7 linked regions of the Homo sapiens genome follow. The protein of the gene in region 2 purifies or fractionates together with the protein of the main gene of each other region. This does not show direct contact. Each region holds a gene or a part of one and is shown on either strand. Other genes may lie near its edges.

The links.
Region 1: the proteins of CERK (region 2) and HLTF purify together in Homo sapiens (affinity purification with mass spectrometry; one large-scale study listed by BioGRID and IntAct). This does not show direct contact.
Region 3: the proteins of CERK (region 2) and ILKAP purify together in Homo sapiens (affinity purification with mass spectrometry; one large-scale study listed by BioGRID and IntAct). This does not show direct contact.
Region 4: the proteins of CERK (region 2) and ALDH18A1 purify together in Homo sapiens (affinity purification with mass spectrometry; one large-scale study listed by BioGRID and IntAct). This does not show direct contact.
Region 5: the proteins of CERK (region 2) and TAF13 purify together in Homo sapiens (affinity purification with mass spectrometry; one large-scale study listed by BioGRID and IntAct). This does not show direct contact.
Region 6: the proteins of CERK (region 2) and PRRC2B purify together in Homo sapiens (affinity purification with mass spectrometry; one large-scale study listed by BioGRID and IntAct). This does not show direct contact.
Region 7: the proteins of CERK (region 2) and SPG7 purify together in Homo sapiens (affinity purification with mass spectrometry; one large-scale study listed by BioGRID and IntAct). This does not show direct contact.

The regions. Positions count from the first base shown.
Region 1 is NC_000003.12:149,031,307-149,034,867, reverse strand, and holds part of HLTF (helicase-like transcription factor), read left to right. Parts: intron 1-2,495; coding exon 2,496-2,648; 3' UTR 2,649-3,561. UniProt on the Homo sapiens protein: Has both helicase and E3 ubiquitin ligase activities. Possesses intrinsic ATP-dependent nucleosome-remodeling activity; This activity may be required for transcriptional activation or repression of specific target promoters.
Region 2 is NC_000022.11:46,706,417-46,711,024, forward strand, and holds part of CERK (ceramide kinase), read right to left. Parts: intron 1,573-4,608; coding exon 1,427-1,572; intron 1-1,426. UniProt on the Homo sapiens protein: Catalyzes specifically the phosphorylation of ceramide to form ceramide 1-phosphate.
Region 3 is NC_000002.12:238,189,495-238,194,102, reverse strand, and holds part of ILKAP (integrin-linked kinase-associated serine/threonine phosphatase 2C), read left to right. Parts: intron 1-4,130; coding exon 4,131-4,250; intron 4,251-4,608. UniProt on the Homo sapiens protein: Protein phosphatase that may play a role in regulation of cell cycle progression via dephosphorylation of its substrates whose appropriate phosphorylation states might be crucial for cell proliferation.
Region 4 is NC_000010.11:95,645,928-95,650,535, reverse strand, and holds part of ALDH18A1 (delta-1-pyrroline-5-carboxylate synthase), read left to right. Parts: intron 1-4,608. UniProt on the Homo sapiens protein: Bifunctional enzyme that converts glutamate to glutamate 5-semialdehyde, an intermediate in the biosynthesis of proline, ornithine and arginine.
Region 5 is NC_000001.11:109,069,504-109,074,111, reverse strand, and holds part of TAF13 (transcription initiation factor TFIID subunit 13), read left to right. Parts: intron 1-4,608. UniProt on the Homo sapiens protein: The TFIID basal transcription factor complex plays a major role in the initiation of RNA polymerase II (Pol II)-dependent transcription.
Region 6 is NC_000009.12:131,476,496-131,481,103, reverse strand, and holds part of PRRC2B (protein PRRC2B), read right to left. Parts: coding exon 4,569-4,608; intron 3,361-4,568; coding exon 3,155-3,360; intron 2,631-3,154; coding exon 2,485-2,630; intron 1,853-2,484; coding exon 1,711-1,852; intron 1-1,710.
Region 7 is NC_000016.10:89,552,301-89,555,840, forward strand, and holds part of SPG7 (mitochondrial inner membrane m-AAA protease component paraplegin isoform 1 precursor), read left to right. Parts: intron 1-678; coding exon 679-835; intron 836-1,493; coding exon 1,494-1,660; intron 1,661-2,185; coding exon 2,186-2,263; intron 2,264-3,540. UniProt on the Homo sapiens protein: Catalytic component of the m-AAA protease, a protease that plays a key role in proteostasis of inner mitochondrial membrane proteins, and which is essential for axonal and neuron development.

The sequences.
Region 1 (3,561 bases), on a different chromosome or scaffold from region 2:
ATTAAGCAAGTAATGCATGAATATATTATTATGATTGAGTGTAATTATGCAGAGCAAAATATAAGTCACCTTTTTCCTCCTTCATCAATAATTTAATATATGCTGTTTAAGGGGCCTTTCTCTGCACCTACATTTATAGTTATGTGTACATCTCCTTAAAAACATTCTTTTAAAGATAAATGGAATTATACTTTATTCTACAACATATTTGTTTCCCTTAAAACTATACATTGGAGACTACCTCATAAGTACATTTAGATGAACACTTTTTTTAAATAGTGGTAAAATACAAAATTTACCATTTTGAAGTATACAGTTTAGATGCATTAAGTACATTCATGTTGTTGTGCAACAGCCATCACAATCATCCATCTCCAGAACTTTTTCATCATCTTAAACTGAAACTGTGTATCCATTAAATAATAACTTCCCATTCCTCTCCCCCCAGCCCCTGGCAACTACCATTCTACTTTCTTTCTCTGAATTTGACTACTCTACAAAACCATATAGATATATCGTAATATATTTAACCCATTAAGTTTTTTGCTAATAAAAACAGTGCCATAATGAGCATTATTATATATAAATCTTTTCACATAGATGCAAGTAATTCTTTGGGATAAGTTAAGAAAACTAGAATTCTGGATTTAGAATTTTTATCAACTATCGAGTTGGTTTCAAAATAGGATTTATATGAAAATTGTTAATTTATGCTTCTGTGGCCAAAAAAGTGCTGTTCTAATTTGCATTTACCTAAAACCTTGAGTATATTTCACATATCTTGTTTATTAACATTTTTTCTGTGAATTATTTATATCTTCTGTCCAGTTCTCATAGTTATGGTACAAATAGTTTTATAGTATAAAGGACTCCCTGATACAGTCTGACTTGAAATCTTTTGTTTATGTATGTTGAAAATGGTTTATCCCATACTCTTCCTTGTCTTTAAACTGCATTTTTTTGGTCATGAAAAAGCTTTAAAATTTTTATGATTTAAAACGTCAGCCTTTTTTATACGTTCTAGGTTTTAAGGTCTTACCTAGGACAGAAGGCTTTATTTTCACATTTTTTCAACTATTCTGTATTTACTTCTGGTTCTTTTGGAAGATTTTATTTTTTGTTTTATGATTTGTGACATGAGTCTAAGCTTATTATTTTATCAGATGAAGAACGATTTGTTCTGTCACATCATTTTTTTTCTTTGAAAATTCCAACTTTTTCCCTACTAGTATGAAATGTCACTTTCATCATAAACTAATTTATATATATTACTTGGGTCTTTTTCTAGACTATTCTGTTCCATTGATCTCTTTTCCTTTTCTTAGGGCAGTATTACTCTTATAACAACTATGGTTTCCTAAAGTAAGTTTTGATACCTGATAGGGTAAAATGTTCTGATGACCCTTTTTGAAAATTGTATTGGTGGTTATTATTATTGCTCTTGAATTGAACTTTAGATTTTAGTTATAAAATCCCATTTAAGATATCTTGAGATTTATTGAATTTATTATTACTTTCGAGAACTATCTTTCTTTATAAGTAACGAATGTTTCCATACAGGAACATAGTATCCTTTCTCCATTTATGTAGATCTTATATGTATTTCAGTAAAATTTTATTATATAGCTTTAGTTATTGCAGTAATTGGGTCTTCTTAAACAATGTTAAATAGTAGCAGATAGTGACCATTCTTGACTTGTTTCTGTTTTGTTGTAGAATACTTTTATTGTTTCACATTAAATATGTAAGGTTGAGACATTCATTCCTAGTTGGGGTATTTTAAAATCAAGTTTTTATCAGGAATGAGATGATCACGTTTTATTTTTCTCTTTGTTAGTGTTGTGAATTATACTAAAGATTCATTCTTGAATTTCTGGGAATAGTTTTTTGTTTTTTTTTTTTTTTTTTTTGAGACGTCGCTCTGTCACCCAGGCTGGAGTGCAGTGGCGCAATGTCGGCTTACTGCAAGCTCCGCCTCCCGGGTTCACACCATTCTCCTGCCTCAGCCTCCCGAGTAGCTGGGACTACAGGCGCCCACCACCATGCCCGGCTAACTTTTTCTATTTTTTAGTAGAGATGGCATTTCACCGTGTTAGCCAGGATGGTCTCGATCTCCTGACCTCATGATCTGCCCGCCTCGGCCTCCCAAAGTGCTGGGATTACAGGTGTGAGCCACCGTGCCCGGCCAGAATGGCCTTTTTAATACAATGCTGAAGTCATTTTGCCAGAGTTGCCTATATAGTTTGCTTTTTTTTTCTTTATTGCTTTGCTTATCTTGTGATCTGTAACTTCTATTCGTACAGCCATATTCTTTATATAAGAAAACCATATTGGGTAAGGAAAGCAAAGTTCAGTTCTATTAAATAGTTATTATAGTTTGGTGCAAAAGTAATTGCGGTTTTTGCCATTAGGCAAATCTTTCATTTAGTTTTTTTAATAAAGATTTTAAATACTATGCCTTAAAAACTACTTAACTTTTTTTTTTCTTTTTAAAGTTCATTGTAAAGGACTCTGTTGAAGAAAATATGCTGAAAATACAAAACAAAAAGAGAGAACTTGCAGCAGGAGCCTTTGGAACTAAAAAACCAAATGCTGACGAAATGAAACAAGCCAAAATTAATGAAATCAGAACATTAATTGACTTATAATTTGTGGGATTTTAGTAAGGTCAGTTTGATTGGATACTTAAGTTTTAGAAATGAGAAAAATACAGAGTTTTAGAAATGAGATCTAGAGAACACGTCTTCTAAAAGGGGCATATTTTATATTAGTGAAGAGGTATTACTGACACAATTTCTTCTATATATGAACCTATTTTTAATGAAACTTCAAATAGCAATAAGTTCCGTTATATACTGTGGCCTGAAATAATTTGAGAAAAAAGGTTACTTTGTTATTCAGCTTTTCATAATATCTATGCTGAGTATTTTCACGTATCTTCCAAGTACTCAGCTTTTTCGTATTTCAAATAAGGTCAGACCTTTTATACTTTTGACCAAATAGTTATTTTCTATGTTGGACACTTAGTTATTTACCAAAGCCTCCGATTTGTGATGCAGTGTTTGTAGTCCTTGTAAACAATATATACAGACTATACAAGAATTAATTTTATTGGGCTTTCAAAAACCATATTTGCATTCCAGAACCAAATCTTAAATGAGACCAAAGTCCAGGTTAGCACAGGTTTTTATTTTTCCTACAGCTACATTGAGATATAGTTCACATAAATGACTTGGAGTTTTATGTTCATGAAAAAATTAGGGATTATGTTAAGAGTACTATTTTTTCCATTTTAGTTAAGTAGTACTACACTCATTGTTTAAATGTAACTTGCTGTGTCTGAGGTATAAATATAGTCTGTGGGAGTGAGAGGCAAACCAGTCCTACCCAATTTGATTTGAATATTTTAAATTATGGAACTGCTAAATAGATATTTCTATAAATAGATAATTTTTATTTATGTAGCTTTTTTTGGAAGTAACTTTATAAATTTTTATAATTCAGAAGACTACTATATGTGAGAGGCGTGATATCTGGATGGAAGTTGGGCTGGATGATCTC
Region 2 (4,608 bases):
TGTTGCTATAATGCTTTGGTTTATCTGAGAGACTTGTTATTGGAAGGGGTGCTGAGAGCTTTTTCTCTATTGAGCTATTTCTAAAGAACCATTTCTCCCCTTAGTGTCTCCCAGCCTGGAGCCAGGCTGTTCTCATTAGACAGGACTCTTCTCAGGTGAGTGACATTCTTCTAAAACTCATCAGGCGATATTATGAAAAGTTCCTCTCTATTAATAACTGCATCACGCCTTCCCTAAAAGCCAAAGGGAAGGGATCGTAACCAGACGATCATCCTTTCCTATATACTTAAAACCATGACCATGGTCAACTTGTTGCTAACAATTATTAGTAATTCACGAGATATTATGCTAACACAAATCCCCCTAAAATGAGTCTTGATACTGAAAACACCCGCAATGTCACCATCCGTGGGGAACATTTGCCTCACACCATTATTCACAAGCTCTGTCATTAAGAAGGAGTAATGACTTAAGTTTAAAGGATGACTCCCTCAAGTAAACACTGGCCCACAATGTCACCTGTCGGAGGCAGGTTAGAGTTGAGAGCGGCACCCACAGAGAAGGTGGCTCAGGGCCTGTCCCTCGTGAGGGCTAGCCTTTCCCTTGCTTTGAGGCAAGGTGGCCTCTAAACCTCCAACTCTCGCTCCCATCCGGTGACCTGTGACCTCACCCCCAGTCCTCCTGTCTTCATCCATAAAATGGGGATGACTGCGGTGCTCACATCCCAGAGCTGTGACGAGAGTGAAAGTGTGCACCATGCCGCCACCCTCGGGGCCAGACACAGGGCCAGAGAGGACAGACACCTCGTCCCCTGCCAGGTCATTTGCAAAGCCTGCAACACACCACGCTCAGGCCCTCAGCTTGACTTAGCTTAACACTGTGATTTTTCAAAGAACAAGGTGGTTCCTAGAAGGATGTTGAATGGACCAAGCCGAACCAGCACTTCAGGACACAGCCCAGCTGTTCCCGGGCTCGGCTAGGTCCTGCCCTTGGTTCCGCCCCCACCTTTCCCACTCAGTCTCCTCCCAACTCCCCAGCCCGATTCCTGCCCACACCCACCCCTAACTCCCGGTTCCTTCAGGTCCAGAAGCCACTTCTTCCAGAACGCACCCCCTGCCAACCTACCCACCTGCTCCCGGGCACCGGGGGTTCCCCACTCCAGGACTGCACCCCCAGCGGTGGGGTTCTCCTGCCTTGCGTGAAGCAGCCTTTGGGGGAGTCGGGCAACTTTCCTTTCCACGAGTGTCTATTTCATTGGGGTCATACTCTCAATGATATCCCCCCAAGAGTGGCCCTAATGTTAGGAAATCTGTACGAACTAAACTGAGTATAATTGGGTTATTAAGTGTCCGAGGTGGCTACTTGTGCAGAACAATTCCTAAGGACGGGAACGAAGAGAACAGAGAATGCCAGGCCGGCTCCATACCTGCGGGAATGATTCCAATCCGGAGGCTACTGGGGACCAGCACAGCCCGGGGGTGGTTCTGGTCGACCCCGGCGCTCCTCTGCGTCCTCCCAATCAGACCGTGCAGCACCTCGCTGAACATACCATCTCCGCCGACACAGACGATGCTGCAGGAGGAACACAGCCGGTCAGGGCTCCTGCAGGTGCGGCCCTCTGAGCGCAGCAGGCCTGAGGCTTCCAGCTTCAGGAGGGGCAGCCTGCACACCTGGCCCTTGGCAGGCATCTAGAAGTGCGGCTCCTGAAATGTCCCTAAGTGATAAGGTCGTGCCTCTGTGCCAGTTGGCCTAGACCACGTGTACAAATAATGAGATTGATGGCAAATACTGGCTTTCCTTCTGTGAGTCTGGAATTTGGGTGGCTAGGCAGAGAATGCCTGCATGCCTGTACCCCCTCAAAAACACTACACTCTGGGTCTCAGGACTCAAGTTTGCGGGGCGGGAAGAGTACACCTGTGCTGCTGCATTTGTGGGAGCAGAGAGGGTGCACTCCAGGTGACCCGCACTGCGGGAGAGGCACAGCAGTCTGCGCGGGGACGTTTCTCCTTTGCTAAGCTGGCTGTGCAGCCTTGCTCTGTCCCGTCAGAAATCTCAGCCGAGAGCACGACTCTAGCTCAGGCAGCAAATCACCAGCCGTGTGGGTGGTCTTGAGGACCCAAGGCAAGAGCAGAGGGGACGGAATAAATGCGGACAAAATGGGGCATGAGACAATCTAAGGAGAGGAGATGGAGAAAGGGGACAGTGGCTGAAGGGAGAAAGGACGGGTTGGTTTCAGGGTGTGCTGTCCTATGCCGGGGGTAACCCACAGGGAACCAACACTGAGGTGGCAGAATGAGAGGTGCAGGCATGGAGACAGACATGTCACTGCAGCCCAGAGGGAAGGCAGAGGACAGGGCTCAGGTTTCCTGGACATCTCTATAGCCTACGGCAGCCCAAGAGCTCTCATCACCCGGGAAGAGAGGGTTGCAGGGGGAAGGTCCGCCGGTAGAGGAGCGGTGTGAGTCGACTAGGGGGTGCAGCCTGAGGGGCCTCCCTCAAGCATGACAGCATCAAGGTGCCTGCCCATTCCCCAGTGGGTCTGTCTGTGCAGGCGCGACCAGTCTCCAGGGCTGGGATCTCTGCCCACCACCCACCACTCAGGCCACCTGCTTTGGGCCCGGCTCCCATGGGAAGGCTCTTTGCCCTTCCCCGTAGCCTACACCTTGCACCGGGGCAGCCTTCCCAGCGGGGCTGTGGTTTCGAGGACAGGGCATCCTTGAATGGGCAGTGTAGCATCTGTGTGTTAGACAGACAGATCACTCAGACAGACAGCTCAGCCGCAGGAAGAGCAGCCCTCACTGGCCAGGCCTCCCAGCCTCCTGCACGGCATGTCCCTGGGTTTGGGGAGAAGGCGTGCCCTCAAGAGGCGAGGCTGATCCCTTGGCTAGGGTGGGTGCAATAAGGTGCCAGCCCCATCCCTGCTGAAAAGTGAAGACGACTGTCTTCCTGCCAAGCTGCTGTCGGGTGGAGGTGGTGGGAAGAAGTACATGGAGGAGCTGCCATCGGGTGGAGTTGGGGAGATGTGCATGGAGGAGCCCCCTGCTTCCTGGAGCCCATGAACAGAACACTCCCGCATTAGGAGGGGAGCAAAGGGGTCTCCCTGTCAGCACCTGGGGGCAGGGGCTCCTTTTATTTCCCTTTCTAACCTTAGCACCAGCAGAGTGCTGGGACCTGGAGGACCCTCAATAATGTTTGTGGAATGAATAATGATTTCAATAAATATCCGCTGCAATTTATAACACATTGCTCACCGACTCCAGATGGAACAGAGAGAAGAAAACAAAAAGCCAACCAATGACAAGGCAATTAACTACAGGGGAATAGCTAAACTCAAGATGAAGAGTGAAATTTTAAGCATAAAGAACAGCACAGAAGAGCTGGACAGACTTGAGTACATGAATTTGAAAACTTCTACTGGGAAGAATTAATGCCATAAGCAAAATTAAAAGACAATTTCAAAATTAGCAAAAATATTTGCAAAAATATGAATATAAATATGAATTGCCTATTATTTGTTGGATAAGAGAACAAATGACTGAAATTATGGCCAACAAAAGAAAATGGGCCAAAGACATAAAAATCAATTCCAAGAAGCCAGCTAGCCAATAAACATATTTCTTAAAATATTAGAGACTTTCACATGTCAAATTAGCAGAGAAATTTTATACTGATAATACCAAACATGTTGACAAAGACAGTAAATAATATACTATAAGAAAGAATGTAAACTGGCCGGGCGCGGTGGCTCATGCCTGTAATCCCAGCACTTTGGGAGGCTGAGGCGGGTCGCGTGGATCACCTGAGGTCAGGAGTTCGAGACCAGCCTGGCCAACATGGCGAAATCCTGTCTCTACTAAAAACACAAAAATTAGCTGGGCGTGGTGTTGGGCACCTATAATCCCAGCTACTCGGGAGGTTGAGGCAGGAGAATCATTTGGACTTGGGAGGCCGAAGCTGCCGAGGTCACGCCATTGCACTCCAGCCTGGGCAACAAGAGCGAAACTCTGCCTCAAAAACGAAAAAAAAAAAAAAGAATGTAAGTTAATAGAATCTCTTTCGAAAGCAATATGGCTGTACACGGCAGAGATTTTAAAATGTTAATCTCCTATGACTAATTTCATTTCTAGGAATTTACCTTAAAAATGTAGATGTATGCAGAGAGATTTATGTACAACAATGCTATCCTAAGAGCAAAAATTGGAAAGAGCCTGAACATCTACAAGTGAGAGGCTAAATAAATATGGCATGCCCACATAATGGACCATGATATGGGCATTAAAAATAGTAGTTCTGGGAAATCTCTAGGAATTTTGGGGAAAAGAAGAATCCCAAACTGTAAAAACGACAGCATCTAAACATTCTTGATAATGTGCTTGGTTGATTTGCTTCTCTGTCTACACAGCACCGCATAAGCACATCTTCTGAAAGACCGAAAGGGAACAGAACCAGCAAACAACCATTCTCGCCCAGCCCAGCCAGAGAGGAGTGTGTGACTGCACTTTTCTGCCTTTTCTTTCTTGCCTTCCTGTAAGAAGCATGTTTACTTTTACAATTGGTCGTGGGTGGAGGCGGGGGGCGGATTTAGGAAAAGGAGCTCTCAAAACTGAG
Region 3 (4,608 bases), on a different chromosome or scaffold from region 2:
ACTGTATCACTTTCTGGTGATATTAACTTCTTGAGGTTCAGATTGTTGGAACTGCCTTTAAGAATTAAGAGTTCACTAATTTACTCTTAACTTTGTTATTAACATTTTTTAAAAATTCAGAGTTCATTATTCCGATTTGCCTTGTTAAACAGAGTGCTTGACTCAAATGTATCGAGGCTAGTAGCATTGGCTCTACCTCCTCCTGAAAATGTTCCTTTTCATGTCCTAATTAAGTAGAAGGGAAGAATAGAGCAGATTCCTGTTGCCATTGCGGCAAAGGTATGATTCTGTCTCATGAGAACTTCTTAGGTAGAGCTCCTCTGGTTGGGGAAGGTGAGGGTTAGGAGAGGTTGGGAGATAGATGGTGTGGGGGCAGTGGGGAATGCAGGTAATCCCATTTCGTATGCAGGTATATTTTCTATATTTTAGGAAAAGTACTCCAGTCATCTTATATAAGAATTCTCAATCTTCAGGGCTGTAGACCCATACCAAAAAATTGCAGCATCCTCACACTCACAGTGTGGCCTGAAACCTTCCCAATAAAGATAGTACCCTTAGTTGTAATGAAAGTTAATATGTTCTGGCTGGGCGTGGTGGCTCACGCCTATAATCCCAGCACTTTGGGAAGCCAAGGCGGGTAGATCACTTGAGGTCAGGAGTTCAAGACCAGCCTGGCCAACATGGCGAAACCCTGTCTCTACTAAAAATACAAAAATTAGCCAGGCATGGTGGCATGTGCCTGTCGTCCCAGCTACTCAGGAGGCAGAGGCAGGAGAGTCGCTTGAACCCAGGAGGCAGAGGTTGCAGTGAGCTGAGATCACGCCATTGCACTCCAGCCTGGGTGACAGAGAAAGACTCTGTCTCCAAAAAAAAGGAAAGTTAATATGTTCAAAGAAGGCTGTTAAGGGATTTAATAGAAGAAATGAAGATACAGCATAGCTGTCTCTTATTTATCTACAGGACAAAAGGCAAAGTAGTAAAAAATTTAGAAGATTTACATAACACTATTAACAAGCTTAATTTTTTGGATATATAATCTTGGGTCTAGTGTTTTAGATTTCTAGAGAAGTTAACACATTTTTTTTTTCTTGAGACGGAGTCTCACACTCTCACCCAGGCTGGAGTGCAGTGGCACAATCTTGGCTCACTGCTACCTCCACCTCCCGGGTTTAAGCGATTCTCCTGCCTCAGCCTCCTGAGTAGTTGGGACTACAGGCGTGTGCCACCATGCCTGGCTAATTTTTGTATTTTTAGTAGAGACAGGGTTTTCCCATATTGGCCAGGCTGGTCTCGAACTCCTGACCTTGTGATCTGTCCGCCTCAGCCTCCCAAAGTGCTGAGATTACAGGCGTGAGCCACTGCACCCAGCCGATAACACATTCTTTTTTTTTTTTTCCTTTTTTGAGACTGTCTCTCTCTCTGTTGCCCAGGCTGGAGTGCAGTGGCGCGATCTCAGCTCAGTGCAAGCTCTGCCTCCCAGGTTCATGCCATTCTGCTGCCTCAGCCTCCCAAGTAGCTGGGACTACAGGCTCCCGCCACCACGCCCACCTAATTTTTTTGTATTTTTAGTAGAGATGGGGTTTCACCATGTTAGCCAGGATGGTTTCCATCTCCTGACTTCGTGATCCGCCTGCCTCGGCCTCCCAAAGTGCTGGGATGACAGGTGTGAGCGACCTTGCCCGGCCCGATAACACATTCTTAAGCGGGCAGGAACCATTTACAAAAGTTGATTATGTACTAAGCCATAAAATAAGCCTCAATGATCTGTTTCTTGTACAGACTACATTCTCAGACTACAGTGTAATTTGCTTAGAAGTCAATAACAAACCTGTAAGGTGTCTTTATTTTGAAATTTTATTATTTTTCTTTTTTTCTTTTTCTTTTTCTTTTTTTTTTTTTAAGACAGTCTCACTCTGTTGGCAGGCTGGAGTGCAGTGTTGCGATCTCAGCTCACTGCAACCTCTACTTCCCGGGTTCAAGTTCCTGTCTAAGCCTCCCGAGTAGCTGGGACTATAGGCACCTGCCACCACACCCAGCTAATTTTTTGTATTTTCAGTAGAGACGGGGTTTCACCATGTTGGCCAGGATGGTCTCAATCTCTTGACCTCATGATCCGCCTGCCTCTGCCTCCCAAAGTGCTGGGATTACAGGCATGAGCCGCTGCGCCTGGCCTTTTTCTTTTTCTTTTTTTTTTTTTTGAGATGGAGCCTTGCTCTGTTGCCTAGGCTGGAGCGCAGTGGCGAGATCTCAGCTCACTGCAGCCTCCGCCTCCTGGGTTCCAGTGAGTCTCGTGCCTCAGCCTCCCGAGTAGCTGGGATTACAGGCGCTACCATGCCCGGCTAATTTTTTGTATTTTAATTAGAGACCGGGTTTCGCCATGTTGGTCAGGCTTGTCTTGACCTTCTGACCTTAGATGATCTGCCCATCTCAGCCTCCCAAAGTGCTGGGATGACAGGTGTGAACCACCACACCTGGCCATCTGTTTTGGAATTTTAAAGGAAGAAAGTTTCACATCCATATGGGGAAAACTGGAACCCATACAGTAAGCCACAGGACACTAATGGGGACCTTTGGGAGAGATACTGTTGGAAACATCTGTGTTGCCTTATGCAGGGTGCATATGTGTATTATGTTATACTGTTGCAGAAATAGGGCCTTGTGCAACTAATTTACGCTTCTTGAGGGCAGGAACATTTTCATTACTTTTTCCTCAGCACTAAGAAATGTCTGACACAGGCGGTTCAAGACCAACCTACCCAACATGGTGAAACTCCGTCTCTACTAAAAATACAAAAATACAAAAATTAGCTGGGTGTGATGGTGCACTCCTGTAGGCTGAGACAGGAGAATTGCTTGAACCCTGGAGGTGGAGGTTGTAGTGAGCTGACGTTGCGTCACTGCACTCGAGCCTGGGCGACAGAGTAGACTCCGTCTCAAAAAAAAAAAAAAGACACCTTGTGTTTACCAAAAAAATTAAAAAATTAGCCGGGTGTAGTGGTTCCTGCTTTCAGTCCCAGCTGCTCAGGAGGCTGAGATGGAAGGATCACTTGAACACAGGAGTTGGAGGCTGCAGTAAACTGTGATCATGCCACTGCATTCTAGTCTGTGTGACAGAATGAGACCCTGTGTCAAAAACAAAAAGAAGAAGAAATGTCTGGCAAAGAGTAGGTTGAGTAAGTAAATAAGTACTTGCATCCTTTTTTTTTTTTTTTTTTTTTTTTTTTTAAAGAGAAACGTCTTACTACTTTGCCCAGGCAGGTCTCAAATGCCTGGGCTGAAGTGATCCTTCTGCCTCAGTCTCCAGAAGTAGCTGTGACTGCAGGCATGTGCCACTGCATCTGGCTGTTGCATACTTTTATACCTAAATGCAGAGAACATTTCAAGTCATTTATTAGGACAGCAGCTGCCCTTATTGGAGATTGATGTGTTAGGCACTGTGACAAATGCTCTTCCTACTTGTCCTGACCCATTTTCAAACATCCCTCTGAGATGACAGTATTCTTACCATGTTACGCACGGGTGAAGACAGCTGAGACTGAAAGATTAAGTTGCACACCTCTTTGAAACTTGACTTTTCTCATTTCAAACACATACACTGCAGATTCCCTTAGCTTTGAGTACAGATTCATCCTTTTGCTAGTGGGAACAGCTGTGGCAGCCTTATTTTGCCTTTGAAAGGATGTATTACAGTTCTTAAAGGCTGCCATTTACCTCATTTTGAGCCTTTTCGAGTACTTGTTACTTTTTGGAACGTGATTAGGATATGTTAGTTTGCTTACAGATTTTGTAAGTGTTTGTTTAACACTAAGAGCCTGTGGATATAAAAACATGTATATGCTACAGGCCAAAAAAAACCATGTATTTTTACCACTGGGAAAAGTCTTTTACAAACCCCTTCAGCAGGGTCAGTTTGACTCAGGGCCTGGATCTTAACTTTATGTTCTCTCACTGTGGGACCCCCCTCCCCCTCCCCGCCAACCATGAAGACACAACTCCTGGGTCTGCCTGTGTCTGCCAGTCCTTGCTTCAAATGACCTTGTCTTTGAGTGCTAGGATGAAGCCCAGTCTACTAGTGACTTTTTCCAACAGTCTACAGCTGTGTTTCTGTCTGGCTTTTACTTTATTTCCAGGTTCTCTTGCCACATCAATATCCCAGATGGTAAAGACTGAAGGGAAAGGAGCAAAGAGAAAAACCTCCGAGGAAGAGAAGAATGGCAGTGAAGAGCTTGTGGAAAAGAAAGTTTGTAAAGGTTTTCAGACAATTTGAAAACAAATGTATTAGACTTCATATTTTAAAACAACCCAGAGCAAAACCAGTTTCAGCTTTCTAATAATACTTTCTTTTTATGTCTGTATTTAAGAAATAAGTAGGGTTCCCTTTTTGCAAATGAATTTCCAAGTTTCTCTGTGCTTTCTCCTACTTTTCATGTACATCTATCTCTGATCCTACCTTTGATCAGATAGGAAACCTACATTTGTTCCTCAAGAGTTAAAAAATACAGGTGGTTTTTTTCTTAGCCTTCTGCAGTGAATGGTTAGTTTTTTGACCACCTAGTCTCTCTCTGACTTCCAATCTTTGTTTGCAGTTTGTCAATTAGTGCTTTGAAT
Region 4 (4,608 bases), on a different chromosome or scaffold from region 2:
ACCATGTCTCATGGGAACTAAGAGTGAGGACTCATGCATTCCCTCTGAGACTGGCACCAGGCTGTTCATCAGGGATCTGCCCCCGTAATTCAAACACTTCCTACCAGGCCCCACCTCCAACACTGGGGATCAGATTTCAACCTGAGACTTGGAAGGGCCAAACCATATCCAAACCATAGCACTTCCAGGTATTAGTCCTTTGTTGGATAGGTGGTTTGCAAATGTTTTCTCCCAGTCTCATAGCTTGTCATTTTATTCTCTTAAGAGGGTCTTTCATATAGGAAAAGTTTTTCTTTTGATGACGTCAAATTTATCAGCTTTTGTTTTTATGGATTGTACTTTTGGGGTCAAGTCTAAGAACTCTTTGTATAACCCCGTATTCTGAAGATTTTCTCGTATGTTTTTTTCCCGAAAGTTCGATAGTTTTATATTTTATACTTAAATCCATGATCCATTTTTTTTTTGTTTTCTTGAGACAAGATCTTGCTCTGTTGTTACCCAGGGCTAGAGCATAGTGGCACGATCAAGGCTCACTGCAGCCTCAACCTCCAGGGCTCAAGTGATCCTCCTATGTCAGCCTCCCAGGTAGCTAGGACTATGGGTTGCACCACCACAGCTGGCTAATTTTTTTCTTTGTTTTTTTTTTTTATTTTTTGAGACAGGGTGTCACTCTGTCACCCAGGCTAGAGAGCAGTGGTGCAATCATTACTCACTGCAGCCTCAACGTCCCAGGCTCAAGCGATTCTCCTGCCTCAGCCTCCCAAGTAGCTGGGACTATAGGCGTGCACCACCATATCCAGCTAATTTTTATATTTTTTGTTGAGACAGGGTTTTGCCATGTTGCCCAGTCTTGGCACATTTAATTTTTTAAAAAGTTTTTTGGTTGGGCCTGATGGCTCACGCCTGTAATCCCAGCACTTTGGGAGGCCGAGGTGGGCAGATCACGAGGTCAGGATATCGAGACCATCCTGACTAACACAGTGAAACCCCGTCTGTACTAAAAAACACAAAAAATTAGCCGGGTGTGGTGGCAGGTGCCTGTAGTCCCAGCTGCTTGGGAGGCTGAGGCAGGAGAATGGCATTAACCCGGGAGGAGGAGCTTGCAGTGAGCCAAGATAGCGCCACTGCACTCTAGCCTGGGTGACAGAGTGAGACTCCGTTTCAAAAAAAAAAAAAAAAAAAAATCTGTAAAAATGGAGTCTATGTTGCTCTGGCTGGTCTCGAACTTCTGGGCTCAAAAGATCCTCCCACCTTGACCTCCCAACCTGCAGGAATTACAGGTGTGAGCCACTGCACCCAACTTCGTGATCTATTTTGAGTTAATTTTTGTATAAGGTGTGAGGTTTAGGTCAATGTTCATCTTTCAACTTTTAATACTAGTTGTTCCAGCATCATTTGTTGAAAGGCTGTTTGTGATGTTTTGAGTTGGCTAGCTCCTTGATATCACCTAAATCTTATCAGTAGTCCATTTCCAAGCTTCATTGCAAGATGACTTGCCAATCAACTAATCAAGCTTGTCATTAGACAGAAAAATCTCTTTCCTATTAATGTAGAGTATAAGGGCTGAAAGTTCAGGTTTTGGAACCAGTTCCTGGGTTTTTAAAACTAGCCCTTCTGCTTATGAAGTAACTTCGTAGCTTAAAACAACTGTCTGTTTAGGTCACAATTCTGTGGGATGGTATTTTGGACTGGGCTCAGCTGCACAGTGGTTCTGTGTCTGTGTCAGGTCTCAGATTGACTTAGGGCTGATTGTTGGGGATGAAGGGGCCTCTGCTGGGATGATACATCATGTACATTCCCTGTGGCTTCTCATTCTCCAGCAGGCTGTTCATTGCTGCTTTGCATGATGCTTGCAGGGTCCCCAGAACAGGAAGCATGGTAGCTACAAGTCCTCTTGAGATGTAAACTCAGAATTTATGCACTGTTCCTTCTGCCACATTTGTCAAAGCAAGTTACGGGGCCAGCTCAAATTTAAGAAGTTTGGAAGATTGACTCACCTGTTAATGGAGAAGCTGCAAAAGGATTGTGGCCATTTTTGTAATCTGGCAATGCTGGTAAATTACTCAGTTACTCTGAGCATCAGTTTCCTTATTTATAAAATGGGGATAATAATAATAATGAACTCATAATAATACCTAACTTATGAGGCTTAATTCATGAGAATTCAGTAAGATGATGATGATGATGATGATGATGATGATGATGATGATGATGAAGGTAGAATATGGAAAAGCTCAAACTATTTTTCCTCTGCTCTCACTCCATAACAACAATCAACACAGAAGACTTCTGTGACCAAATGTACGGGGTTGCAGTGGACATCAGTTGGGTATCCTCCAATTCAATTCTGACACTGTCTCCCTGAGGACAGCCCACAGGTTGAGGGCTCAGTCCCTCAAGATCATCCCCATCTTCCTAGTAGTCCTGAGTCCAGGCTTCTGGAACTTCTGACTGACTGGCTTCAAGTTGGGGTTCCCACAGTACCCTCTTTGGGCTTGATTGATTTGCTAGAGTGATGCAGAGAACTCAGGGAAACACTTAGATTTACCAATTTATTACAAAGGAAACAGATGAAGAGATATGTAGGGTGAGGTGTGTGGTAAGAGGCACAGATCTTCCATGCCCTTCCGGGGCACGCCACCCTCCAGGAACCTCCACATGTTCAGCCATCTGGAAGCTCTCCGAACCTTGTCCCCTTGGACCTCTTATGGAGACTTATTGGATAGGCATGATTGAAGCATGGGCAACTGTGTCGAAATGTGATTGAACAAAAAGAATGTGACCTGATACTAATAGACTGAGTGGGGTAACCCAGCAAGGCCTGTCTGTTCAGATTTTGTCTTGGTCTTCCTGTGCAATATTTCTTCCTCCAAGGTATGGGGCAGGACCCTCTCTGGACTGAGGGTCTTACAACCCACAATCAAATTAGAGTCCTGCCTTGAGTAGGTGAAAGGAGTTCAGGAGAATACCAGAGAGATTCTGTTTCCTTACACCAACATTATAACAAAAGACTGTAAAAAGGATTATTAGAGTTATAAGCCAGGGACCATGGATATATATGTCATGTCACAGTAAGTAACACTTTTTTTACAGTACCAGTTAATATTCATTGAGTATTTTGTGCCAATCTCTGTTCATGCATGAACTTGTTTTATCCACCCTACCAACCTTATGAGATAGTTAAGGAGACAGCAAGTAAGTGAAGGGGTTGAAATTTCACTCAGGCAGTCTGGCTCCAGAGCCAACACTTGTCCTTTTTACTCCTGTAGAAGGTGTATGAATACTTAGCACAACTCCTGGTATATAGTAAGTGTTCACTTCAGTATTTTTATTGATACTTATCCTCATTAGACTCATTCACAGAAGGAGGCACTTTCTAATTGTTTCCCTAGGTTTTTGAATTTGGGGATTTGGATTTTTCTGGAACGTGGAGCTCTTTCACTGACCATGATAAGCAGAATAGCAGAGGGAAAAAAAAAGAAAAGAAAGGCAAAATGAGAACGCTTGTGGAGATAAACAGAGAAGGCAATGGAAGGCCAGAGAGAAAAAGAGTAGTCATGTCTGGGTCCCTTCTTGTTGAGGCCTGGAACACAGCCTCATTGGTTACTGGGCATAAGGATTCTGATGCTGAAGAAGTAAAGGGTTCTCCTCTGTCAGAGTGGTAAGAGTATAATCCGTGGCCCTTAAGAAGAACATGGACAACCCCTCCCATCCCCCACCATGCCACATCTGTACACACATACACTTCAGTATGCCCTCATACCTACTAAGAGGGGACAGATTTTCTTTGGAACTTAGAGCCTAAAAGTTCCTTAGAAGATGGGAAACAATTATTTCTCTAGAAGCCTTGAATTTTCCTAACTAATCAAGGCCTTCTCAGTTTTCAATATGGACCCTAACAAGTATAATACATTGTAGAACATTAAAAAAATACCCCCAAGAAAGGTAGGGTCAGCCTTGGAAGGTAAAAGGCGTTGTTCAATAGGAAACCCAACAAGCCCTGAGTCCCCTGAAGCTCTCCTTTGTGCTAGAACCTACTGGATTTGACTGAGTCAACTGCATGAAACCTTGTTGTTAGTGGTGACCTCCTCTTGAACCCTAACAGGCCTTATCTACTGCTGTTACCCTATTGTCTCCAGCCAGAATGACCCTTGACTACCTGGCACTGAACCATGCGACCCACCCTCTTCTCCTGATACAGACTGTGGGTTAGCCTCCTTCATGCTAGCCTGGCTGCTGGATTCTGATTGGCTTCTACCATTTGATCACCTGGACAGACATGCATGCCACTGCCTGTGTTCCTGAGGTACCCTCTCAGGCTGCTCCACCCATGCTCACCACCCTTCCAGGTCAGGATAGGCCCTCCAGCAGACAGGAGAGAAAGCCAGAAAGCCTAGATCTGACAGCTACCAAAAGGATAATACATGATACTTGGCATAGCTCTAAGCTCTGCAAACAGCCACTGATGATCCCTGGTCCAAACCCTAGGGGAGTAAGCCTGTCCCTCCACCACCCTTCTCTCTGGCAGATCAGTAAGACCAAACCATTAGGCATACAACTTTTAAACTTAAGACTTAGTTGTACATATTGCTTAGGATAATATTCCTG
Region 5 (4,608 bases), on a different chromosome or scaffold from region 2:
GTCATCATGGCCCGTTCTCAATGAACTGTTGGGTACACCTCCCAGACAGGGTGGCGGCAGGGCAGAGGGGCTCCTTACTTCCCAGATGCGGGCGGCCTGGCGGAGGCGCTCCTCAGTTCCCAGACGGGGTCGTGGCCGGGCAGAGGCGCTCCTCACCTCCCAGACGGGGTGGCGGCCGGGCAGCGGTGCTCCTCACCTCCCAGACGGAGTAGCGGCCGAGCAGAGGCGCTCCTCACATCCCAGACGGGGCGGCCGGGCAGAGGTGCTTCCCCACATCCCAGGGGATGGGCAGCCAGGCAGAGACGCTCCTCAATTCCTAGACGGGGTGGCAGCCGGGCAGAGGCTGCAATCTCAGCACTTTGGGAGGCCAAGGCAGGCAGCTGGGAGGTGGAGGTTGTAGCGAGCCGAGATCACGCCACTGCACTCCAGCCTGGGCAGCATTGAGCACTGAGTGAGCGAGACTCCGTCTGGAATCCCGGCACCTCGGGAGGCCGAGGCGGGCAGATCACTCGAGGTCAGGAGCGGAGACCAGCCCGGCCAACACGGCGAAACCCCGTCTCCACCAAAAAATACAAAAACCAGTCAGGCGTGGCGGCGCACGCCTGTAGTCAGGCAGGGAGGCTGCAACGATCCCAGATCGCTGCAGTACAGTCCAGCCTCGGCAACAGAGGGAGACGGTGGAAAGCGGGAGACGCAGACGAGGGGGAGGGGGAGGGAGAGCTTTTTTTGTATTTTTTGTAGAGACGGGGTTTCACTGTGTTAGCCAGGATGATCTCGATCTCCTGACCTTGTGATCCGCCTGCCTCGGCCTCCCAAAGTGCTGGGATTACAGGCGTGAGCCACTGCACCCGGCCTATAAATTGCTTTTTAAGTGAGCAAATGTAATTAGTGTTTTAATTTAGGGCAGAAGAACATACCTCCATTAGTTTTCCTCTTGCCTTTACAGCAGTAGAGAGGCTTCTTTGACTGTAAGCCACAGGTAATAATGGATCCTGCAACAGGTGTTGAGGGAGAGTAGCAAGTGAGTTGGGGCTTGGGCTTTGGACTAAGGCCCTGAACAAAGTAAGAAGGTGGTGAACAGCTGGGTGCAGTGGCTCACGTCTGTAATCCCAGCACTTTGGGAGACTGAGGCGGGTGGATCACTGGAGGTCAGGAGTTCGAGACCAGCCTGGCCAACATGATGAAACCCCGTCTCTACTAAAAATACAAAAATTAACCAGACGTGCTCGCTTGAACCCAGGTGGCAGAAGTTTCAGTGAGCCAAGATTGCGCCACTGCACTCTAGCCTGGGTGACACAGCAAGACTCTGTCTTAAAAAAAAAAAAAAAAAAGGTGGTGAATCGTGTAAGGCATTATAGTGACATGGAGGCTAGATGCAGTGGCTCACGCCTGTAATCCCAGCACTTCGGGAGGTCAAGGCAGGCGGACTGCTTGAGCCCAGGAGGTCAAGACCAGCCTGGGCAACATAGTGAAACCCTCTCTCTACAAAAAATACAAAAATTAGCAGGGCATGGTGGCATGCCCCTGTAGTTCCAGCTACTCTGGAGGCTGAGGTGAGAGGATGGCTTGAGCCCAGGAGGTGGAGGTTGCAGTGAGCCCAGATTGCACCACTGCACTCCAGCCTTGGTGACGAAACCAGACCCTGTGTCCAAAATAAATAAACAAATAAAATAAACAATAACATGGAGATTATAATGTATTGATTCTCCATCCTACCCCCTCAGTAGACGGTTTTGACCCTTTTTGGCAACACGAGGAAGGGAGAGCTGCTACTAATACTGATGATCCAGGCCAAGCCCTGGAACACAGCATGAAAATGTGCTCTCCATCTCCCAGTCCTGGGTCCTTTATGTAAAGTTATGTCTAAGTATTGAGAGATGAGGCCGCACAGATTTATGAATATGATTTATTTAGGCTGGGTTATATGTGAGCAGTTCCCAAATGCCCTTGAAACTACAGGGTCAGTATATATATATATATATATATATATGTGTGTATATATATATATATATATATATATATATATATGTGTGTGTATATATATATATATATATATATATGTGTGTGTATATATATATATATATATATATGTGTGTGTATATATATATATATATATATATATATATATATGTGTGTATATATATATATATATATTTTCTTTTTGAGACAGAGTCTCACTGTTGTCAGTCTGGAGTGTAATGGCGCAATCTTGGCTCACTGCAGCCTCTGCCTCCTGGGCTCAAGCGACTCTCCTGCTTCAGCCTCCTGAGTAGCTGGGACTACAGGCACATGCCACGACGCCTAGCTAATTTTGGTATTGTTAGTAGAGACAGGGTTTCATCATGTTGGCCAGGATGGTCTTGATCTCTTGACCTCATGATCCGCCGTCTCAGCCTCCCAAAGTGCTGGGATTACAAGCATGAACCACCGTGCCCAGCTTCAGCGTCAGTGTATCTTTTTTAAGAAAAATTATTTTCTTAATTTTTATTTATTTTCTTAGAGACAGGGTCTCACTCTTCTGTCACTGGGGCTGGAGTACAGTGGCATGATCATAGCTCACTGCAACCTTTAACTCTTGGTGTCAAGTGATCCTCCCACCTCAGCCTCCTGAATAGCTGGGACTATAGGTGCATGCCACCATGCCCAGCTAATTTTTTTTTTTTTTTTTCCTGAGATGGAGCCTTGCTCTGTCACCCAGGCTGGAGTGCAGTGGCGTGATCTCGGCTCACTGCAACCTCCACCTCCCAGGTTTAAGCAATTCTCCTGCCTCAGCCTCCCAAGTAGCTGGGATTACAGGTGTGTGCCACCATGCCCGGCTAATTTTTTGTATTTTTAGTAGAAACGGGTTTCACCATGTTAGCCAGGCTGGTGTTGAACTCCTGACCTCAGGTGATCCACCCCACTCGGCCTCCCAAAGTGCTGGAATTACAGGCGTGAGCCACCGTGCCTGGCCACACCCAACTAATTTTTGTATTTTCAGTAAAGACAAGTTTCACCATGTTGGCCAGACTGGTCTCAAACTCCTAGGCTTAAGTGATCCTCCTGCCTCAGCCTCCCAAAGTGCTAGGATTACAGGCATGAGCCGCCAGACACTGTTTTATTTTTTAAACATCCAAATCCTTTTCCATATTTTGTTTCCTCACTAATGCTGACCATTTCTTATTTCATTTCTCTGATGCTCCTTATACCATTATGTGGTTTTTACTTATTAGGTCAGCATAAGAAGGGGATCCTTGTACCAGAGCATCCCAGAGTGATGTTCAGTCGGTTGTTAGCAAAGACCTTTGTTCCACTGAGATTACTTTGTGATGACAGGAATTTGTAATCTTCAGGCTTCTCCTTATCTTACCTGAATATTCATAGAAGTTACTGACGAAAGATCTATTCTCCTGAACCTTTAAAAAAAAAATTTGGGGGGGACTGGGTACGGTGGCTCATGCCTGTAATCCCAGCACTTTGGGAGGCCAAGGTGGGAGGATCACTTGAGGTCAGGAGTTCAAGACCAGCCTGGCCAACATGGCGAAACCCCGTCTCTAATAAAAATACAAAAATTAGCTCGGCGTGGTGGTGCATGCCTATAATTCCACTACTCAAGGGCCGGGCACGGTGGCTCATGCCTATAATCCCAGCACTTTGGGAGGCTGAGATGGGCGGATCATGAGGTCAGCAGATCCAGACCAGCCTGGCCAACATGTTGAAAACCCATCTCTACTAAAAATAGAAAAATTAGCTGGGCGTGGTGGCCTGCACCTGTAGTCCCAGCTACTTGAGAGGCAGAGGCAGGAGAATCGCTTGAACCCGGGAGGCAGAGGTTGCAGTGAGCCGAGATCACACCACTGAACTCCAGCCTGGTGACAGAGAGAGACTCCGTCTCAAAAAATAAAAATAAAAAAAGAAAGCGTCAAGGTTTTGAAAGATGAAAAAGTCAAGGAACTATCGGATTCGAGGGAACTAAGGAGGCATGACAACTAAATAGTATGGGAACCTGAAACAGAAAAAGGACATTGGTGGAAAAACTTGTAAAATCTGAATGAAGTCTGTACCTGTACCGATGTTAATTTCTTAGCTTTGATGACTCCCTATGGTTGTATAACATGTTAACATAAGGGGAAGCTGGATATAGGGCATATGGGAACCCTGTACTATTTTTGCAACTCAGCTGTAAATCTAAAATTATCTTTTTTTTAAAAAGGCAAAAAAAAGTACAGAATCCAAAACAGAACGATAGGAACTATTGGCTCCTGTGTTTGTTTTTTTACTCCTGTTTCTGGACCTAAAGACTCTTGCCAGTGTAAAACCCTAGGGATATGTCTATCTCAGGCTGGTTTCCAAGTCACCCTTTTCTTCTGTAGGCCTGGTCTACTTTCTTCTCTTTGTACTTCTACTAGTTTTTACTTCTTCTAAATAGAGGAATTATTCTTAATTTACTCATTTCTTCCTTTAGAAGTATTCTATGAGTATCTTTTTTAAAAAAAAAAACTTAGGTACAATAAATTGTGCAAGTCTTAAGTGAACAGCTTGCTGAATTTTATGTATGCTATACAGTCGGCTCTCTATGTCATGGGTTCTGCATCCATGGATTCAACCAACCTCAGATGGAAAATATTC
Region 6 (4,608 bases), on a different chromosome or scaffold from region 2:
GGTCTCGATCTCCTGACCTGGTGATCTGCCTGCCTCAGCCTCCCAAAGTGGTGGGATTACAGACGTGAGCCACCAGGCCTGGCCTTCTTTTTTTTTTAAACAATAGAGACAGGGTCTCACTCTGTTGCTGGTCTTGAACTCCTGATCTCAAGTGATCTTCAAGCCTTGGCCTCCCAAACTGCTGGGATTATAGGTGTGAGCCACCACTCCTGGCCAAAGTTGGTGGCTTCTACAGAGTCTTTGAAAGATCCCAGCGGGTATTACTAAAAATTTTTAAGCTCACAGACCACTTTTTGAATGGCCATGGATCCGGAGCCCAGAAAAATAGATATGCATGCAAAAGTTGACATGCTAGCAGGGGGTGGGGGCACATATCTGCAATCCCAGCTACTCAGGAGGCTGAGGCAGAAGGATTGCTTGAACCCAGGGGTTCAAGTCCAGCCTGGGCAACATAGTGAGACCCCATCTTTAAAAAAAAAAAAAATCCTTTCACATGCTATTTTAATATCCAAGGGCTCTCTGAAGCCATCCCTTGGACACAACCCCTGGTCTGAGAAACCAATGAGCCCCTGCAGAATTCTGGAGTAAAAGATCTGACAAAAGGGGATGATGACTCACACCTGAGAGTCACATCTGATTCACACCTGGCAGCTCAACCAATCTGGCACCTGGGCATTTTTGGACACCAATACTATGACACCTGTCACTCAGCCACTACCAAATGTAGTGTTATTGATGTTTTATCAAATGGTTGTGCTTCCTTTCCATCAAAGCTGGGCATGTTGAATGTTATTTTGTAGTTTGCAAGAACCAAAGTTTTCACCGAGCACATGAGGACAAGCTATGTGGAAACAGTGAAAGAATCAAGGCCCAGAACTCAGTGTCTCGGGTGCTTGTCCTATGACCCTGGAGTCCCTGAGTCAAGTCCCTTCCCTCTAGAAGCTTCAGCTGCTTTGCAGAAAAATGAGCTGGCACTAGGTGACCTCTCCAAGCTCCCCTCATGGGCCTGAGCTGTGAAATATCGAATGTCCATGTTTTTATTCATCTATGCATGCTCTGGGCTAACAGCGCAGGGCCCTGCCTCACCTAAACCTCAAGAAGAACCTATTCTATGAAAATAGTTTTCTATTTTATAAGGAAAAATTCCCAGAAAAATTACATTTGATATAGAATTAAAAAAAAAAAGTTTTCAGGGCAACAAATGTTCTAAGAAGTAACGTATACCGTCTTCTGGTCTCAGTTTGCCTTTCCAGAAGAGCATTCAGGGAGGGGTTTCCAGAGCCTTCCCCATGTTAAGAAAAGGGTGCACAGCACAGAAGAGAGCTCCTGAACTCTTGCGGCTGGTCTATCTGTCATTTGCTTCTCTTCCATAAGTTAGTGGGAGAAAACGACGACCAACAAAGAAGGCCATTCCCACTACTGTGTGATCTAAGCCCAAGGGGCCATCCTTTTCCAGATCACCAGACTAATGAATGCTCTGCTCTTCTACCAATTTTAGGCAAGGAAAATTGTGTATCCGTTTGGGGGTTGCAGCAGCAAATCACTCAGACGGCATTCAGCGACTAGCTCAGCAGCGGAACACAGCAAACAGGTACTCCATCTGTATTCCATCTATATTCGTAGCTCAAAAGCAGGATCCTCCCCAGAAGCAAACCCAGTGTGTGATGTGACCTTGGGTGCCACAGCTGGGGTCACACCCCCAACTCTCACCCTGGCTGCTGCTCTCCCAGATCTCAGTGCCCAGGCTGCTGCCAGGCACGGTCACGTCACCTTGCTCCAGACATAAGTTGTTCTGCTTTTTTGCAAATCGAGGAGGAATACGGGAGGAAAGGCCTCGACCTTTGACAGGCACCTGAGGGGAAGAAAGGATGCTGTAGTCTAGCCAAAGGCACCAAGACTGACAAATTCTCCCCAGGATAAGTATCCCAGGTACCAAAAATCACACCACCTGAAAATGCTCCAGAGATGTGTGGAACGCTCGTCTCCCAAAACCTCAAGCAGAACTGCGATGCCAAGCAAAGCACCCCCCAAGAAAGACCTGAAAGGCCAACGGACTGTAATCTGTGTGCAGGTCCAGCCCTGACTCCATTTTAGTATAGCGTTCACGATCCACTTGACTTGAGGGAGACAAATCTCATTCCACTCAGGAATGAGGAGTGGGGAGGAAGGAGAAGCTGGGAGGTGACGGAGGTCTGCATCTTGCCTTGGACAAGTTTCCACTGTTATCACCCTAGAGAAGTCACCCTCTTCAAGACTCGGTTTCTTCCACTGCATAACAGTGATGCCACCACCTATTCCTACATTGATAGAAGGGCCTTGGTAATAGCAGGAACGGGGAGACAATGTGTGCTTGCTAAATACTCCTTTCTTCCTCTCTGCCACCTTGAGCTTGACCGAGAACTCCCTTACCCTCTGGCTCTGGGTTTCCTGGGCATCTGCCAGCCTGCCCTCCAGCCCCATGCCCCCCCACCCTCCGCCCCTCACCTGCACGGCCTGCTCCTTCTTTCTTCTCTCTTCCTCCAGCAGGCGGCGCTGCTTCTTGGTCAGGACTTCGATGAAGCCTTCGCCCACCATAGAACCCACCTCACTCTCCTCCCCGGGGCTGGACCCGCAATTTTCAATGATGGCACCTGAACCAAGATTTCACGAGAAGGAACAGTCTTTCCACTCACCAGGAGACAAGAACAACCCAATTCAACAGGCGCCTGAGATCTAGCATCAGGCTCGACAGAAACCTGGACAGGACTTCCGCACTTTTCTCAGGCCGCCTCTGATCTAACACATTGTTACCCCAAACCAAAGAGGCCCAAGGGCACAACTGAGAGAACACGCAAAGAGCTTAAACCCCAGCTCTGCTCCTACAGCTGTGTGTGACCTCGGACACACCACCGAACGTCTCTGGGCCCCAGGCTTCCTCTCTTTAAAGCCCGGAAGCTGCAGGGTGTCACGGGGATTCAACGGGCTGTGAGCAACACTCGGTGGGAATCCTACCTACTCTGCTCACCTCTACAGCCCCAGAACCCAGCCCAGGGCCTGGCCGAGCTGTTCCGAAAGCTAAGGTACTCAGTGCAAGGGCAAACTCGGGAGGCCCGAGGACTGCATGGCCCCTGGTTCTGCCTGAGTTCTTTCCCCTGAAGATATGAGGATGACTTACTTCCATAGTTCAGGTCAAACTGTTTCATGGCCTCTCCCTGTTCACCTGCCCTCGGAGCAGCCAACTTGGCCTCCTTCTCTGCCTTTTTACTGGAGGCTTCGGGAAGGTCAGCACTGGCATGGGCTGCCCGCTCCAGGGCATAGGGGGAGTGGCCACTCCCACTGCTGCAGCCACTAAGACCTCCAGGCAAGGCCTCGTCTGGGGATCTGTAAGGGAAAGAGGATCTTGTTAACCAGAGCTGGGGAAGGAGGGAAAACACCGCACGTGCACACAGCCTGCACACAAGCCCGGCACCCTGATCTAGGCCCACTTCCTCTAGCTGACTCCTCGGGTGGGGAGGAGCGGCAGGCTGGCCACAGTGCATCCATGTCCGTGTGCAAACATACGTGTAAGGCTGCCCCCACCGGCTCTGCCTGCTCCTGGGGAAAGTGGCTCCCCAGGGCTCTCCCACATGCTATGTTCAGAGTGTAGGGGGGAGAGAGACAAGGGGAATATGCTCAGAATGGAGACGCCAGCATTTCTGCTCCTCTCCAGGACTGCCCTGCCGGAGGGCCCTTGGGGCAGAAAACTGAGGTGAAGCCAAGGGTCAGCCTCTGGCGCCTGGAAAGCTGGATTAGATGCCACCTGAAAGAGTCGGTGTTCCCTGTGGCTCCTTCTCTGGGAGTTTCTCTGCCTTGAATTCTAAGGAGAGTGGAGGTGTGAAGCCATCTTCCTCAGTATGCTGAGGACAGGGAAGGCCTCAGCAGCCCCTGCACCTCCCTGTCCGAGGCACAAGCCAAGTGCAGTCAGTCAACCCAGACTGTGCAGGGGACCCTCTCCTGGTCCCTGAGCAGAGGTCATCACCCGAATGCCTCTGGCTGTGGAAGAGGTGCTCGCCAGACCATGTGCAGCCTGCTCCCCTCTGCGTTTGCTGGGCTCCTGCCATGCTGAGGTGGCAACCCCACCGTGGGGCCACGTCTCCTCACAGTGGAGAAGCAGAACCATCTAGGAAGAGCCACTTCCATGCAGCCACGAGGCCAGCGATGCCCCCTAGGACGCCGCCTGGCAGCAACTCCGGAGCAGAGGACTCTGGTGGACTGACCGGCACCTGGCACTGTGCACAGGCAACGTTCCTCGCTGCAGCGGCCCCTCGGCGGGGCTCCAGGGACACATGACTGGACTCTCAGGTCAGGTGCTGGACAGTGGCCTCAAGAGCACCACTGGGGTGGGGGTGGGGGTGGGAGCTCTAGCCACAATAACACCACCACGAGAAGCAGACAGGCAATGTGGGGGCAGGCAATGGAGACGCGCACAGACGGCCTGGGGGCAGGCCCCCAGCCCCGACACACGGCGGCATCGGCATGCATGCGTGAACTCAGTGCTGCTGAGAACAGAACACAACAACAAAAAGGGCCCAGATGGTGTCTGGTTTTACCTTTTCACTTTCAAAGGCGTCCCATTCTGTTGGCTCTCAT
Region 7 (3,540 bases), on a different chromosome or scaffold from region 2:
TCTGCCCACCTCTAACTCCCAAAGTACCGAGATCACAGATGTGAGCGACCCCGCCCAGCCTAGTTTTAGATTTTAAATTAAGCGTCCTCGGGATTCTCAGAGCACTTGGATGTGGCCATCTCGCCGCCACAATTCTCAGAAGCAGCAGCTGGGCCAGCCCCTGCCCCGTCTCCGTCCGTCTCCCACTCAGCGGTTCCGTGTTGTCGAGTTAGCTCGTTGCCCCGCGCCACCTCCTTGCACACCTGATGTGGGGCTGTGGGGGAGCAGCAGAGGTGAGGACAGCCTCTGCTGCCTCAGCATCGTGGGGTTCTCATTGCTCTGAACCCTCAGTAGCTGTCGCTGGTGTGAGGGGTCAGCGCAGCGGCCATCGGGGGTGAAACTTGTCCTTCGCCTCTCAGCTGTCTTCTACGGGCCTTGTCTTCTTGACTCCCTGCCTGTCTAGTCATGTATGAGAAGACACTTCCCGGCAGTGTGTGAACAGGCACCTGTGGTGGGAACGCTGCTGTCTCTGGGCTGGCCATCTAGAGTGTTAGGATCCCCTGTTGTTGTAGAGGATGCTGCACATTTGCCTTCCTGCTTTGAGACGCTTTAATGACGGAGACCTCTTAGTCCCACACCTTCCTCCTCAAAGCCCACGCATCCTGCCTACTGACCTGGGTCATCTTGACCTTGTGCCAGGTCTCCATAACCCCTCGGACAAACGCCGCCCTGGGCTTTGCTCAGATGCTCCCCAGAGACCAGCACCTCTTCACCAAGGAGCAGCTGTTTGAGCGGATGTGCATGGCCCTGGGAGGACGGGCCTCGGAAGCACTGTCCTTCAACGAGGTCACTTCTGGTGAGGAGCAGCGGCGCGGGCCCTGGAGGTTTCAGAGCGCTTTTCCCTGCATGACTCCTTCTGTTCCAGTGCATGCCATGGGGTGAATCTGGTGTAGACGTAGCTTTGAATTTATTAAGTATTTTGTAAAAGATAAGTTGTGGTCATAAGAGAGTTGGAGCTAAGCAAGACTTCTTAGATAATTTAATTGGACAAAAACTTAACCTATATGCCAACTCTAGACACATTTAATTGGTTAATTGTTGGTAATGGCTACAGGAAACGGAATAAAATTGAAGCGGCTTCATTGTTCTGAAGCCATTACTGCACTGGGATATCCAGAGAGCTGAAGGAGGGTCCCGGGGGCCCCTGGGCTCCAGGTCCATGGGTTTGCCTCGCATAGGCCTGGGCTTGTGCTTGAGAACTGCCATGCAGTGAGCTCCAGTATGCCCCCGGGTTCTAGATTTCCAAATAAAAGAGCATTTCGGAAAGTTTTAAGACTCTCTTAAGGAACAGTGGTGAGGTGCCAACGTCCTCACTGTCCAGCTTCACGGTGGGTCCTCGGGAGGAAGGGGATGGAGGTGGTGCTGCCTCAGTGCTCTGACCGGGACACCTGGGGCCCAGCACTGCTCTGCGCCTGCAGTGCTGAGGATGCCTCTGTCTCGACCCCGCCCTCCAGGGGCACAGGACGACCTGAGGAAGGTCACCCGCATCGCCTACTCCATGGTGAAGCAGTTTGGGATGGCACCTGGCATCGGGCCCATCTCCTTCCCTGAGGCGCAGGAGGGCCTCATGGGCATCGGGCGGCGCCCCTTCAGCCAAGGCCTGCAGCAGATGATGGACCATGTGAGTCGGCTCTGGCCACACCGCTGCCCTCTGTGCTCCCCGGGGAGGGAGTCCCTGGGTCTACCACACAAGGGTCGCCCACGGCCGCCCCAGCGGAGCTCAGCTGCAGGCCCCACCTGGGTTTCTTCCTTCTGGGCTCTGCTGTAGTTCCCACCTGTGGAGTATTTTCTTCTCAAATGAGGACATAGATGCTCCTAATGAAATTATAGATGTGAATCTGGGAAGAATATCAAATAAATACACCGAGCAATAGACCCAGGGCCCACATGTCCTTCAGACTGGGCCAGGAAGGGCCGATGTGTGCCTGTGAGGCAGCTGTGGGTGGGTGTGGGTGGGTGGGCTGGCATGCGGAGCCCTGCTTTCCTGGCACTGGTCACAGGGGCAGGAGACCACCTGTCGGCTGAGGAGTCCTGTTCCTCCTGGGAGGGGAAAGGCCGTGTTCCCAGTCTGCCATTTCTTTTCTGTGCTTTGGTGCTGGAGCCAGGCGGCCAGCCTTGCCCCTGACACAGTTCCCTCCACTCACAGGAAGCAAGACTGCTGGTGGCCAAGGCCTACAGACACACCGAGAAGGTGCTGCAGGACAACCTGGACAAGTTGCAGGCGGTGAGGCCCTGGCCAGGCGTGGGGGCTACGGCGTCACACAGTGTCCACACAGCACCCACGGTCCCCACCCCTCTCGTGAAGTATTTCCAAGGCACACAGAGTACAGAGAACACTCTGACCGATGTGAATTCTACCCAGCTCAACTGAAACTTACGTGTTCCATACTTTTTATCCTGAACTCGTCAAGTGTGTTCCCCCGAGGTAGAAAGAAGGCTGCCACAGTCTCCTGTGCCTCTTCCTGCCATTAGCAATTACCAATGTTTTGTCAGTTTTGTTTAATCTTTTCCCAAGTCTTACACTTTTTTCTTGAACATTTTTTTAAAACAAAGCTTTAATTTTAGAGTAGGAATTTTTTTTTCTTTTTTTTTTTGAGACAAAGTCTTGCTCTGTCACCCAGGCTGGAGTGCGATGGCGACATCTTGGCTCACTGCAACCTCTGCCTCCCGGGTTCCAGTGATTCTCCTGCCTCAGCCTCCCGAGTAGCTGCGACTGCAGGCATGCACCAACACACTCGGCTTTTCTTTTTTTTTTTTTTTTGAGATGGAGTCTCTCTCTGTCACGAGGCTGGAGTGCAGTGGTGCAATCTCAGCTTACTGCCACCTCCACCTCCCCAGTTCAAGCATTCTCCTGTCTCAGCCTCCCAAGTGTCTGGGATTACAGGCACGCGTCACCATGCCCAGCTAATTTTTGTATTTTTAGTAGAGGTGGGGTTTTACCACATTGGCCAGGCTGGTCTTGAACTCCTGACCTCAGGTGATCCGCCTGCCTCGGCCTCCCCAAGTGTTGGGATTACAGGCGTGAGCCACAGCCCCACGCTGATTATAGTGTTAGATGTAGAAAAGTTGCAGGCGCGGTGCAGAGAGCTCCCTGCCACCCTGCCTCGCTCCCGTGGAGGCCCCCATGGGGCAGTCCTCCCACCTGAGGAGCCCCCGCCGACCCGCGGTGTTGGGTCCACACGTGATTCAGATGTGCTGAGTCTCCCCAGTGTCCTTTCCGGTCTTGGGAGTCCACATGGCGTTTGATCGCCCATCTTCTTAGGCTCCTCTGGGGTGACAGTTCCTCAGACCTCCCTTGTTTTGAGGGCTCTGGCAGTTTTGAGGATTGGTCTCATGTTTTGTAGGACGTTCCTCAGTTGCGATTGTCTGATGTGTTTCTCACAGTGGGCAGAGCTGGAGTGAACGTTTTTGTCCCTGGGTTTGGTAACTGCTGCTTAGAACTCAGGAGAGGTGCACGGCTCTTTGTCCCATGTTGTGAACAGATGGGTAGGCAGTGGATAG